Linked DNA regions of Homo sapiens. The protein of the gene in region 2 binds, or shares a complex with, the protein of the main gene of each other region. Each region holds a gene or a part of one and is shown on either strand. Other genes may lie near its edges. The genes, in order: EXOSC1, EXOSC8 and EXOSC3.

Evidence for each region.
Region 1: EXOSC8 (region 2) and EXOSC1 share a complex: the UniProt entries of both Homo sapiens proteins name them as parts of the RNA exosome core complex.
Region 3: EXOSC8 (region 2) and EXOSC3 share a complex: the UniProt entries of both Homo sapiens proteins name them as parts of the RNA exosome core complex.

Annotation. Positions count from the first base shown.
Region 1 is NC_000010.11:97,444,539-97,448,286, forward strand, and holds the start of EXOSC1 (exosome complex component CSL4), read right to left. Parts: upstream 1,469-3,748; 5' UTR 1,448-1,468; coding exon 1,417-1,447; intron 1,310-1,416; coding exon 1,194-1,309; exon of another isoform or gene 957-1,193; coding exon of another isoform or gene 915-956; intron 1-914. UniProt on the Homo sapiens protein: Non-catalytic component of the RNA exosome complex which has 3'->5' exoribonuclease activity and participates in a multitude of cellular RNA processing and degradation events.
Region 2 is NC_000013.11:36,998,731-37,002,478, forward strand, and holds the start of EXOSC8 (exosome complex component RRP43), read left to right. Parts: upstream 1-2,055; 5' UTR 2,056-2,075; coding exon 2,076-2,092; intron 2,093-3,542; coding exon 3,543-3,579; intron 3,580-3,748. Other genes in the region: ALG5 (dolichyl-phosphate beta-glucosyltransferase), read right to left, coding at 505-570. UniProt on the Homo sapiens protein: Non-catalytic component of the RNA exosome complex which has 3'->5' exoribonuclease activity and participates in a multitude of cellular RNA processing and degradation events.
Region 3 is NC_000009.12:37,782,959-37,786,706, forward strand, and holds the start of EXOSC3 (exosome complex component RRP40), read right to left. Parts: upstream 2,107-3,748; 5' UTR 2,087-2,106; coding exon 1,763-2,086; intron 1,106-1,762; coding exon 956-1,105; intron 1-955. UniProt on the Homo sapiens protein: Non-catalytic component of the RNA exosome complex which has 3'->5' exoribonuclease activity and participates in a multitude of cellular RNA processing and degradation events.

The DNA.
Region 1 (3,748 bases), on a different chromosome or scaffold from region 2:
ACCACCACATATGTAACCATATGCTCATTTGAGCATTTATTTGTTTACAATTTGTGTCTGTGTCCTTTGATAGCAGAAACCAAGTCAGCGCTGTGCCTGACACATGAAAATACTCAAGTGATATCTATGAAATGAACAAACTCAGGACTGTTAAGAACATTCCCAACAATGACTGAATAGAAAGCCCCTTGAATCAGACAGCTTAAGTTACTTACTCAAAGCAGAATCAAAGTCAAGTTAGCCAGAACGTAACTGTTCTAATTCTGAATCCTCTTTCTATTGTGCTCCTTCAAATATTGCTTATATGATCCTGAGCTAATCCTGGATCTATCTCTGAAACTAGAAAGGTAGGTATTACTCACACATTCAACATTTATTGAGGAGCTGCCTTGTGCTATATACGGATGGTATGGTGGTAGGGCCTGCTTTCACGGACTTAGATTTAAGCAGGGGAGAAGTCTAGTAGGAAACATATACCTGAGTGTCTCATCATATGCTGACATAGTGCTTGGAAGAAAAGGAACAGAGTTTTTTGTGAGTCTTTAACAAAACAAACAAAAACAAAACACCCCACAAAACTCCTTTCCTCAATTAGTGGGTCCAGAAGGACTTCTCTGAGGTGATAGTAGAGAAGCTATCTAAAGGAGGTAGGAATTAAATAGGCCTAGGAAGATAGAAGCGTTCCAGATAGATGGCATGTTACAAAGGCTCTGTAGCAGGAGAAAGCTTGGCGCATTACCGACACTGAAAGAAGCTAGTATGTTATAAAAAATTTTTAAAGGGCAAGCAGAGACTGTGATTATAACTTTTAAACACAGAAAAGACAGTATGACTAGATTGCGTCAGTGAGGTGGAGATAGTGGCGCTAGATAAAGTCGGAAAGGTAAGCAACATTCATACAGTATGCAACTCACTGCTGGGCTGAGCTGGGCTGGGATGGGATACTGAGTTCGCATCTGCTTTTGTCCCAACTTCCCTCCCCGAGGGTCAGCAGCACAACCAAGCGAGATCAACACAACTAGTGTGTGGTGGCTAAGTGCACCACAGCGGCGATACGGCTAGAAGAAACTAAGAGACCAACATTGTACCACTGAGGCACTAAAGACGCGTCCGCAGTGCCCATGCCTAAGGACTGGAACTCAAGGGCAGCCTAAGGGAAAAACAGAGGGGAGATGGCATGCCGCTTCCTTTACCGCGCCATTCTCGCTGCTCTTCATCAGACAGCCGGCAAGCGACGAAAAGATGTAGCCGTGGCGGGTGTAGGTGCCGCTGCCCGGGCTGCCCTCCTCCAAGTTACACAGACGTTCGCCTGCAGAAAAAATGCTGCATCGGTCACGGGCCCCCAGAAGCTGTAGGCCGTTTAGCCTTCTTGCTTCAGCCCCTATCCAGGACTCTGTACGGGAAGCGCTCACTTACCGGGGATGCAGTATCTCACAGGTGGCGCCATGATTGCCGCTGTCCCAAAACCAGGATGAAAACGAAGTCGATTTCTCATTGGCCAAACCCAGGCACAGTTCCGCAGTAAGACACGTGTCAATTGGTACTCTTTATCCTTGCGAGTAAACTCCATTTCCCAGGTTACCCCGGGACAAATCCGGGGGCGGAACTTCAGAGGTCCACGCTGGCGCCTGCGCGTGTGGTTGAGGATGGGCTGGCGGCGGGTCCGGGTCCGCTGCCTGGCGCTGCGGGCGGCGGGCCATGGTGGTTTGGATTGAGCCGGGCCCGGCCGGGGCGCCGAGTCGGAGGGGGTGGCAGTGAGCGGCGGCAGAGGCTACGGGGCTCGGTTTGGCTGACTGGGGAGTCGGCAGGCGGCAGGTAAGGGCGAAGCCTCGGCCCTTGCTCCCCATCCTAGTCCCTTTTTCTGGGTAGGGCACTGCCCTGGGGCCTTGTCTTGAGTGCGGGTTCCTGCTCTCTCCTCGCCCCGCCCTGCGGGGCCGTGCCCTCCTCAGCCCGAGCGCACCTTCCGAGCAATCGTTACGCTCAGAGCAGGAGGGAAGGAGGTCAAGCGACCCAACTCGTCTGTTTCACAGATATGGAACCTCAGATTCAGAGACAGGGTTTGACTTGTCCAAAATGATCAAGATAGTTAAGATAGAGCCCAAACTGGAACCCACGGTTTTTGACTTCCAGTCCATCGCAGTTTCACCTCGCGGCTGTCATTGAGAAATAAAACCTTTTCCCGGTTTTTTTGTTTTGTTTTTGAGGAGTCTCGCTCTGTCGCCAGGCTGGAGTGCAGTGGAGCGATCTCTGTTCACTGCAACCTCCGCCTCCCGGCATCAAGCGATTCTCCTGCCTCAGCCTCCCGCGCAGCTGGGACTTACAGGCGCGCGCCACCACGCCCAGCTAATTTTTGTAGTTTTAGTAGTGACGGGGTTTCACCATGTTAGCCAGGATGGTCTTGATCTCTTGATCCGCCCGCCTCGGCCTTCCAAAGTGCAGGGAGTACAGGCATGAGCCACTGCCTCCGGCCTTTTCCCGGTTTTTTAAACTGCAGCTTCCAGTCCTGCGGTCCGATCCTCTTCGCGGCCCCTCATCCCCACTTCAGTAAGCTTTCTCTGGTTGAAAAAGCCGAACTCTGGTTGTGTGGGCCCGTCATCAAAAGATAAGCAGCCCCAAAATAAAGTTGTTACTCTTTTTCTTCTCAGCGTGTTAGCCCAGAAGGGAGGTCTGCACATGAATAAAATGCTACTCTTTATTGATGTTGGGTATCTCCTACTTGAGATTGCAAACATCCTGAGAGCAGCGTCTTTGTCCAGATGACATTCGCCACGACTTTGATCTCAGTTCACCTGACTTCTGATGGCTTTGCCGTCTGTCCTTCCCTGTCCCCTCAGTCGACTTTCCCATTGGGAAACAGATGTGACTTAAAGCCATGGGAAGAGGGGAGTGTTGTGGCCAGCAATCTCCTCCAGTCTGGTGGCAGATGACCAGTATGGCCTGTGACTATTACTGAAGGATCAGAGTACTCGGGCTTGTGCTTGGGGTGGTAGTAAAGCTGCGCTTTGCTCTGTTTCCTCCCGTTCACTGAGATTAGCCCCTTCTCCCCTACACACATCTTTTTGAATTTTGCTTTACTTCTATTTCTTGAGATGAAAAGTCTGGGCCAGGTGCGGTGGCTCACGCCTGCAATCCCAGCACTTTGGGAGGCTGAGGCAAGCACATCACCTGAGGTCGGGAGTTTGAGACCAGCCTGACCAACATGGAGAAACCCGGTCTCTACTAAAAAAATACAAAATTAGCCAGGCGTGGTGGCACATGCCTGGAATCCCAGCCACTCAGGAGGCTGAGGCAGGAGAATTGCTTGAACCCAGGAGGCGGAGGTTGTGGTGAGCCCAGATTGTGCCATTGCACTCCAGCCTGGGCAACAAGAGTGAAACTCCATCTCAAAAAAAAAAAAAAAGAAAAGTCTGTGTGTTCAGTTGCGGCCCACTTACTACATATGTAATTTTCCTGGCATCCCATACCCCATTAGCTAATGGAGAGAGGCCCTAGCCTCAGACTTTGTTCACCCAAATCTGTATCTGTGCGTCTAGGAGCTTTCTGTTTACACGGTTGGGCTGATTTCTGGTTGGGCTTGTTTTCAAAAACGACTTCTAGCTCCTAAGTGCCATGATTTTAATAACAGTTTGTATTTCTCTCTTTATGAATCAGGAAGAATGATAACAGCAGACACTTATTTAGTGTTACCACATTGGCAGGAGTGTCCTTGCTGGTATTTGTAGGACAGATAGACATCTGGCCAGGCTTT
Region 2 (3,748 bases):
ACGCATTTATTCCCATTTGTAACAGATGGCTGCCGTCAAGGCTCCGTCACCCCTATTTGCTTAACCACATCAGCCAAGGGAGCAGGCTAGGGAGCACACCCCTTCTGGGGGCTCGAGACCTCCCTGGGTGGAGCAGAACTGCAGCGGCTGCAGGTCCCGGAGAGTCTGGGAGAGGTCGAGGTTGACAGAGGAGGTGGGTAGGGGGCGCGGGCGCCAGGGGCGATGGAAGCGGCGATGATGCCAGGCCGGGTGGGTGCGCTCCAGTGTGAAAAAACTTACAAGTCTCTGAGCACACAAAGAGATAAGATTCCAAGGGAAAATTAAAGAACCGAAGAAAAGGAGAGTGAAACTCCAGGAAACTCCGAGGTCAGGAATTTGGGGGAATCTAGGGGAAAAGGGACTTCTCCGAGAACTGGTAGCGCGGAGGAGGGGACGCCTGAGGAGCCGCAGTCTCCAGGAGAGCGGTAAGCCCCGGCCTGCGCGGGTTCCCATCCCTGTTCTCACCAGTACGAGGGCTGCGGCCGCCAGCGCCGCGCCGAGCACCGCCAGCTGCAACAGAAGCGGAGCCATTCTCCATGCCGTGGCAGCCCGCCCAATCCCGCACCTCCACACAGGCGGAAGCGCGCCCGCGCGACCCGGCCCCGCCGCCAGAGAGGTCGCGCCCGCTGGCCGCAGCGCCCCCGCGTGGCGAGGCGGAGAAAACGCCGCTCTCGTGCCCTCGGCGCCCAGTCGGTGGAGAGGAGCGCTAGGTTCCACAGCGGGGCGCCAGGTTTATCAAGTATGCAAGACGTCTACTTAATTTGAATTTCAGATTAAAAAACTAATCATGTTTTTAACAGCCTTATTAAGATAGCCACATACCATACGACTCATCCAGTTACAGGTTTCTGGTTTATTACATTAGTTTTTATAAACTGTGGTAAAATAAAAAGTTGCCATTTTAATCATTTTAAGTTTACAATAGTGAGTGGCATTAATTACATACATACTGTGCAACCATCACCACTATCTATCTGTAAAGCCTTCCCAGCTCCCTCCAGGTTCTGGCAACAACTAATTGCATGCTCTATTTGGGGCATACTCATGCTTTAAAAAAAAAAAAACCCACAAAAAAACAAAAACAAAAAACAAAAAAACCACGCTGTGTTTATCAGACATTCAAATTTAACGTGGTATCCTGTATTTTATCTGGTAACCCCACCTAGGAGGGAGATGGCAGCCTTGAGCACGACACAGTCTACAACACAAGGTGATGCTTAGGAGCCCTCAGCTCCGGGACCTGCAGAGCAGAACGTGGTGCGGACAATGAGCGCACAGAAAGTTCAGGTTTCTCGGCCGAGCGCCGTGGCTCACGCCTGTAATCCCAGCACTTTGGGAGGACGAGGCGGGCGGATCACAAGGTCAGGAGATCGAGACCATCCTGGCTAACACGGTGAAACCCCGTCTGTACTAAAAATACAAAAAATTAGCGGGGCGCGGTGGCGGGCGTCTGTAGTTCCAGCTACTCGGGAGGCTGAGGCAGGAGAATGGCGTGAACCCGGGAGGCGGAGCTTGCAGTGAGCCGAGATCGCGCCACTGCACTCCAGCCTGGACGACAGAGCGAGACTCTGTCTCAAAAAAAAAAAAAAAAAAAGTTCAGGTTTCTCATGTGTTGGAGCACGGAGCCCTTGACCAGTGAAGAGGCAAGGCCAGGGCTGAGCCTAAGTCACAGGCAGAAAAAAGACGCAGAAACATTGGAATAACGCTCCACACGCACTGCTTGATTCTGCGCTAGAAACCCTGTTATCTCCGAACTGTTGGTGTTATTCTGAGTCACAGCACCAGCTCTTTTATAAAGAGGGAGACCCGCTCCTTCTTTAACAGCAGATTCGTCAAAATACGTCCAAGGCAAGGAAACCTAGAAAGGCGTCTGGGCAGGGGAAAGTCGATGCGAGGGCGGGCCAGGGACCTTTCGTCGCGTCCCCACCTTGGCATTTCCCGTGGCGTGAGCGGCCCCGGCATCCGTGTCGAAAGTGCGGCGGCGGAACAGGCGCGCAGGAGAGGAGCGGCGCAGGCGCAGACGCGCGGGCGGGAAGATGGCGGCTGGGTTCAAGTGAGTGTTGGCGGGTGGCGGGTAGAGTTCTGTACCCTGGCGGACGGCAGCTTCCTTTAACTCTTAGCTGGGATTCTCTCACCTGGAGGCCGACCCCGTTGGGGTGCCATTTCCTTCCTCGTCGAGGCAGACGATGGGCGGGAGGACCTGGAGGTTGTCACAGTGAAAAGAAAGGGCTTCTTCCTCAGTGAGACGGGAGATGAAAGGACTCTGTAGAGTTCCATACCCGCTGCGAGCGCTCGTGAGCGTGGTGTGTAGTGAACGTGCAGTCCCAGGAGACATAGTTGTAATCTTTTAAAGATTGTGGCCGGGCGCGGCGGTTCACGCCTGTAATCCCAGCACTTTGGAGGACGAGGCGGGCGGATCACCTGACGTCAGGAGTTCGAGACCAGCCTGGTGTACATGGTGAAACACTGTCTCTAATAAAAATATAAAAATTAGCCGGGCGTGGTGGCGGGCGCCTGTAGTCCCAGCTACTCAGGAGGCTGAGGCAGGAGAATCGCTTGAACCCGGGAGGCAGAGGTTGTAGTGAGCCGAGATCGCGCCACTGCACTCCAGCCTGGGCGACAGAGTGAGACTCTGTCAGAATCAATCAATCAAGATTGTTGCATCAGAACCACATACCGCCTGCTTCTCCCTCTCCCGTAATTTATTTCTAAAAGGATCATGCCTCGTTTGGAAGGTTTTTGTGTGTGTGAAGCCAGTGGACTTTCTTAAAGTTTTTAAAAAATGGATAAAATAAATAGGATTCCAAAGGAAATCCATTATGTTGAAATAGTTATCTATGAGTATAAACTCCGAAGACACGATATAGTAGTATATATACTTGGTTTAAAATTAACCTTCGTAAACAAGATCTAGTGGCGAGACTAGTAGTAACTCCTGGGATTTCAAAGTAACGGTGAGCCTGAACATACCTTACACAGCTAAAGGGTGCAAACGAAAACATCTGTGGTCTCCGTGGTTGTTAAAGTTGCAGGTACTGCTAATGTTACTATGGCTTATTGCTTACAGTCATAATTGAAGAATATGCTAAATTTCACTTACAGTGAAAATAAAGATGTACCTTTTTGTTTCCTGAGTTATCTAGTAAGAGGTTAACTATTCATGATCACTAGATTATTAAAATAATCTTTTTTCATGATCACTAGATCACTCTGAATCCTTGTTTCAGAGCAAGAACGACATGATTCTTTTGACACAGATTGAGCTTTTAAAGAGCTCACTCAAAGGGCTTTTAGACGCCAATCTTCTAATCGTTTATGGCAGAGTTAAGGACAGCAATTGAATGTGATTGCTACTACAAGGATTTTTACTTTCTAGAATTACTTTTAGTTAAAAAGTTGTGGAGATTTATGCTGCATCACCACACTTAAGATCTTTGCCAATTTCTGGATTTATGTTAAGATTCATCAGTTTATCTCAGATATATTTTTAACACGTGTTTCAGAACCGTGGAACCTCTGGAGTATTACAGGAGATTTCTGGTGAGTAAAGGTTATGTACATGTTATGCGTTTTGATAACGAGCTGCTTTTAAAGATGAATTTCAAGTAATTTAAATTAATCCATTTGAAGTAACATTTAATGTGTGTGTAAAACTTGTGATAGATGTGTAAAATATGTAATAGGTATAATCTATTTTTATATAAACATA
Region 3 (3,748 bases), on a different chromosome or scaffold from region 2:
TGTTTAGCCTACGTCTCAAAGAATGAGAATGTGTTCCATAGGGTGCGAAGGGATAGTGCAATCAAGACAGTGGGAACAGCATGTGCAAATAAGGGCAGGAAATTGAGTTTAATGGCGTTTGGTGTGATTTGAGTATGGCTGTATGAAGGATATAATTAGGGATGAGGAAAGACACCTGGAGTGTAATGCCAAGGAATTCTGTAGATTTTGGAGAATCTTGTCTTTTCGAGAAAGTGACCGTGTGAGGATGTCAGCTCTCAAAATCCTGGATGGTGAGGTAAAAGCGTGGAGGCAGGGATTAATGAAGAAGTGACTGAGACCAGTCAAGAGGGAGCTGAAGCCTGAACTTGTGGAGATAAAGGGACGGACATGCCAAAGATCAGAGACAGAATCAAATAGGATCAAAATAGGATTAAGCAACTAAATTTGCATGAGAAGTGAATGAGAAGAGGTGAAGAAATCACTAAATTTCAGGCTGGATAGACAAGAAGAGTGTGGCTATGCTACCTGAAAAGCTCAAATTGAAAACCCAAGGTAACAATATTACTCCTCTATCAGCTCCTAGGACCTACAGCCAGGATGGATGGATAGCTGATAATGTCAATTTGCACCACCTGTCCCTCCTCTAAGCCTACAGCAGACATCCTTGTCCAGAGGATATGGACATAACAAATAATGGCGATGATAGATACAACCTTTCAACTCAGTAGAAATGAAACATCCCAAGAACAAATGTAGCCAATGTAAAATAAATTGTAAATGTAAAAAATAATAATAATAATTATGTGGCTCTGATCCTGGAGCATCTGAAGAAACTCTTGGAGCCTGGGGCAATTATATACAAGCTCAGAGATCTAGGTCATGCTTTGGAGACAATTCAGATAGCCTTCTGGATATGTGAGTGTTCTAGGGAATGGATGTTTGTTTCTTTGAAACCAAAGGCTCCCGTAATTACCTGCACATTTGGTCTGTTTCTTTTAGTTGCACCTTCAAATGACAAGTAAGACAAAGAAGCTGGCTCACTCCCTCCAACATCAACTTTGAATATATCTCCAGATTTAGCTGTCACTATGCCAATCACATGGTCTCCTTTTACTGGAACATACTACAAAAAGAAACAGAATGAAAAAACAGCCATAAATGACAAGATACCATTGGAAGATACCTTCAGCAAGTCCTTTGTGGTTACTTTATTGTCATTAAAGAGAAATCTGATCAAATGCCACTTTCGGTAAAAGAAAATCACTTCATAAAGTGCCGGGTGTGCAGCTTCTGGTAGTCTGTTAATTGAGTCCAAACTCCATTATCTCTTAGGCACCCCAACCAGTAAGTCTCTAGCTTTGTGGCATAAGTCCAGTGGCAAAGGAATCCTTACAACCAAGGAAGCCCATTCCATAGACAATTTTTTCTATATGAAATTCTTACCTGTTCTAGGAGAAATTAACTCCCTATGACATCCACTCATTGAGCCTAGTCCTGCCCTCTGAGACTCCAAACGGCAGGCCTGCTGTGGGGTTTTGAAGACTATAATCATGACTCACGGTCTCCAAACGTTTTTCTCTCCTGGTCGCCCTTCTCAGGCTATGTTCCTATTGTTCACGGTCCCTCTAAAGGACATGCAGAAGTGGGCACAAGACTACGGTGGCTCTAGGTTTGCCTGAACAAAAGAGGGCCTCAGGGTCCCTCTCTTCTTTTGGGAGGTCTTCTCAAAGCAGGGCTACCACTCTCACTGCCGCACCACCCCTCCGGAGTCCCAGCTCACCCGCTTCTGCTGAGAGTCCACCCAGTAAACACCGCCGCCGCTGCCACTGCCGGGCTCCTTGTGACGGAGGCGGCCGCACTTGGTGACCAGCAGGCGGTCCCCACAGCGCCGAAGGCCCGGACCGCATACAACGCGCACCCGCGAGCACGCTCTAGCATTCAGGCTCAACGGTCGCTCCACTGCACCCCCAGGGCCTTCCGCGTCCTCCTGTTCCGGCAGGAGCAGCTCCTCACCCGGGAGCACCACCTGACCTAGTACTGTGCGTGCAGCGCGCGCCCTGCTGCCCGCGAGAGATTCAGCCGCGACAGACGCAGGTTCGGCCATCGCGGGCTCCACCAAACACCGTTTCCGGTACCCGCCTTCCGCTTCCGCTCCGCTTCCAACACCCGCCCTTGAGGACTTTCCGTTTCCGGCAGTAGCGGTCCGTTGGATTCGGACCAGTTTATGAAGCTTGATGGCCGTCAGCTCACGGGTCCCTGTCCAAGGTGGCAGTGATTGTGGCCGGCCACCTATCTGACAGCCTGGCCGCGGGTCGGTATGAAAACCGCGCAGCTTGGTCCATCGAAAAGCCTCCACTTCCAGTGTCTCGGGTCGCGTGTTTTGTGACCGGTCGCATCGTGGGGATACGAGATACTTCCACTTAAGAGTTTCTTGGGATCTCTGGAAGCTGAGCAGAGGGGCTTTGAAAATTGGACGCTGGGGCCGGGCGCGGTGGCTCACGCCTGTAATCCCAGAAGTTTGGGAGGCCGAGGCGGGTGGATCATTTGAGGTCAGGAGTTCAAGACCAGCCTGGCCACCATGGTGAAACCCTGTCTCTACTAAAAATACAAAAATTAGCCGGGCGTGGTGGCACGCACGTGTAATCCCAGCTACTCGGAAGGCTGAGACAGGAGAATCACTTGAACCTAGGAGGCGGAGGTTACAGTGAGCCTAGATGGTGCCACTGCACTCCAGTCTGGAGGACAGAGTGAGACCCTGTCAAAAAAAAAAAAAAAAGGGAAATTGGACGCTAGGTGGGTTCATGGGACCTTCTTTCCGACTCCGCCCTCAGAAGAGTGGCTGACCTTTTAACAGGAAAAGTAGTTTTTTTCAAAATAAATAAAACCTTCTTGGTTGTTAGAGATCTAGTCACATTTAGAAAACACAGAGAAAAATAAAAGAAGAAAATAAACGATGTTTTAATCTTGCCCGTTTTTCTCCCTTGCTACACTGTAGTTCTGATTCTTTAGAGCCCAAGGTGTGGCATGAAATAGGTAATACCTGATGAATGAACGAATGTATTCCTTTGGTGTGTATTTCTCCCTAGACTTTTTCCCCCTGCAAATATACATATTTCACATGCTTCCGATAGCCCTACATGGCCTGGAATATCAGTAACTCAAATTTCCCTGGAGCACACTTAGTTGCGCACGTGAGAAGCAGTTGAATTCCAAACCCAAAGAGATTCCAATCATCTATCTGACTTTGGGGGTTCTATTTTAAATCACCGTTTTCTCTGTCAACTCGAACCTTCAATTAGTGCTTGATCAGATTCTCCAGCAGTGGTAGAATTCCTAGGGTCTGGGAGGCCGTGACTGACCGATTGCCTTTAGCGGCCCTCCCTTTCTACTGCTCATCTCTTTGAGGCACCTGCTTCCAACGTAATTTTTAGATTTTTTTTTTTAGACGGAGTCTCGCTCTGTCGCCCAGGCTGGACTACAGTGGCACCATCTCGGCTCACTGCAACCTCCGCCTCCCAGGTTCAAGCAATTCTCCTGCCTCAGGCTCCCGAGTAGCTAGGATTACAGGAGTGCACCACCGCACCTGGCTAATTTTTGTATTTTTAGTAGAGACAGCGTTTCACCATGCTGGCCAGGCTGGTCTTGAACGCCTGACCTCAAGCGATAGGCCCACTTTGGCCTCCCAAAGTACTGGGATTACAGGCATGAGCCACCAAGCCCGGCCGAATTTTTAGATTTTTTAGGATGATTAAGACAGATCATCTCT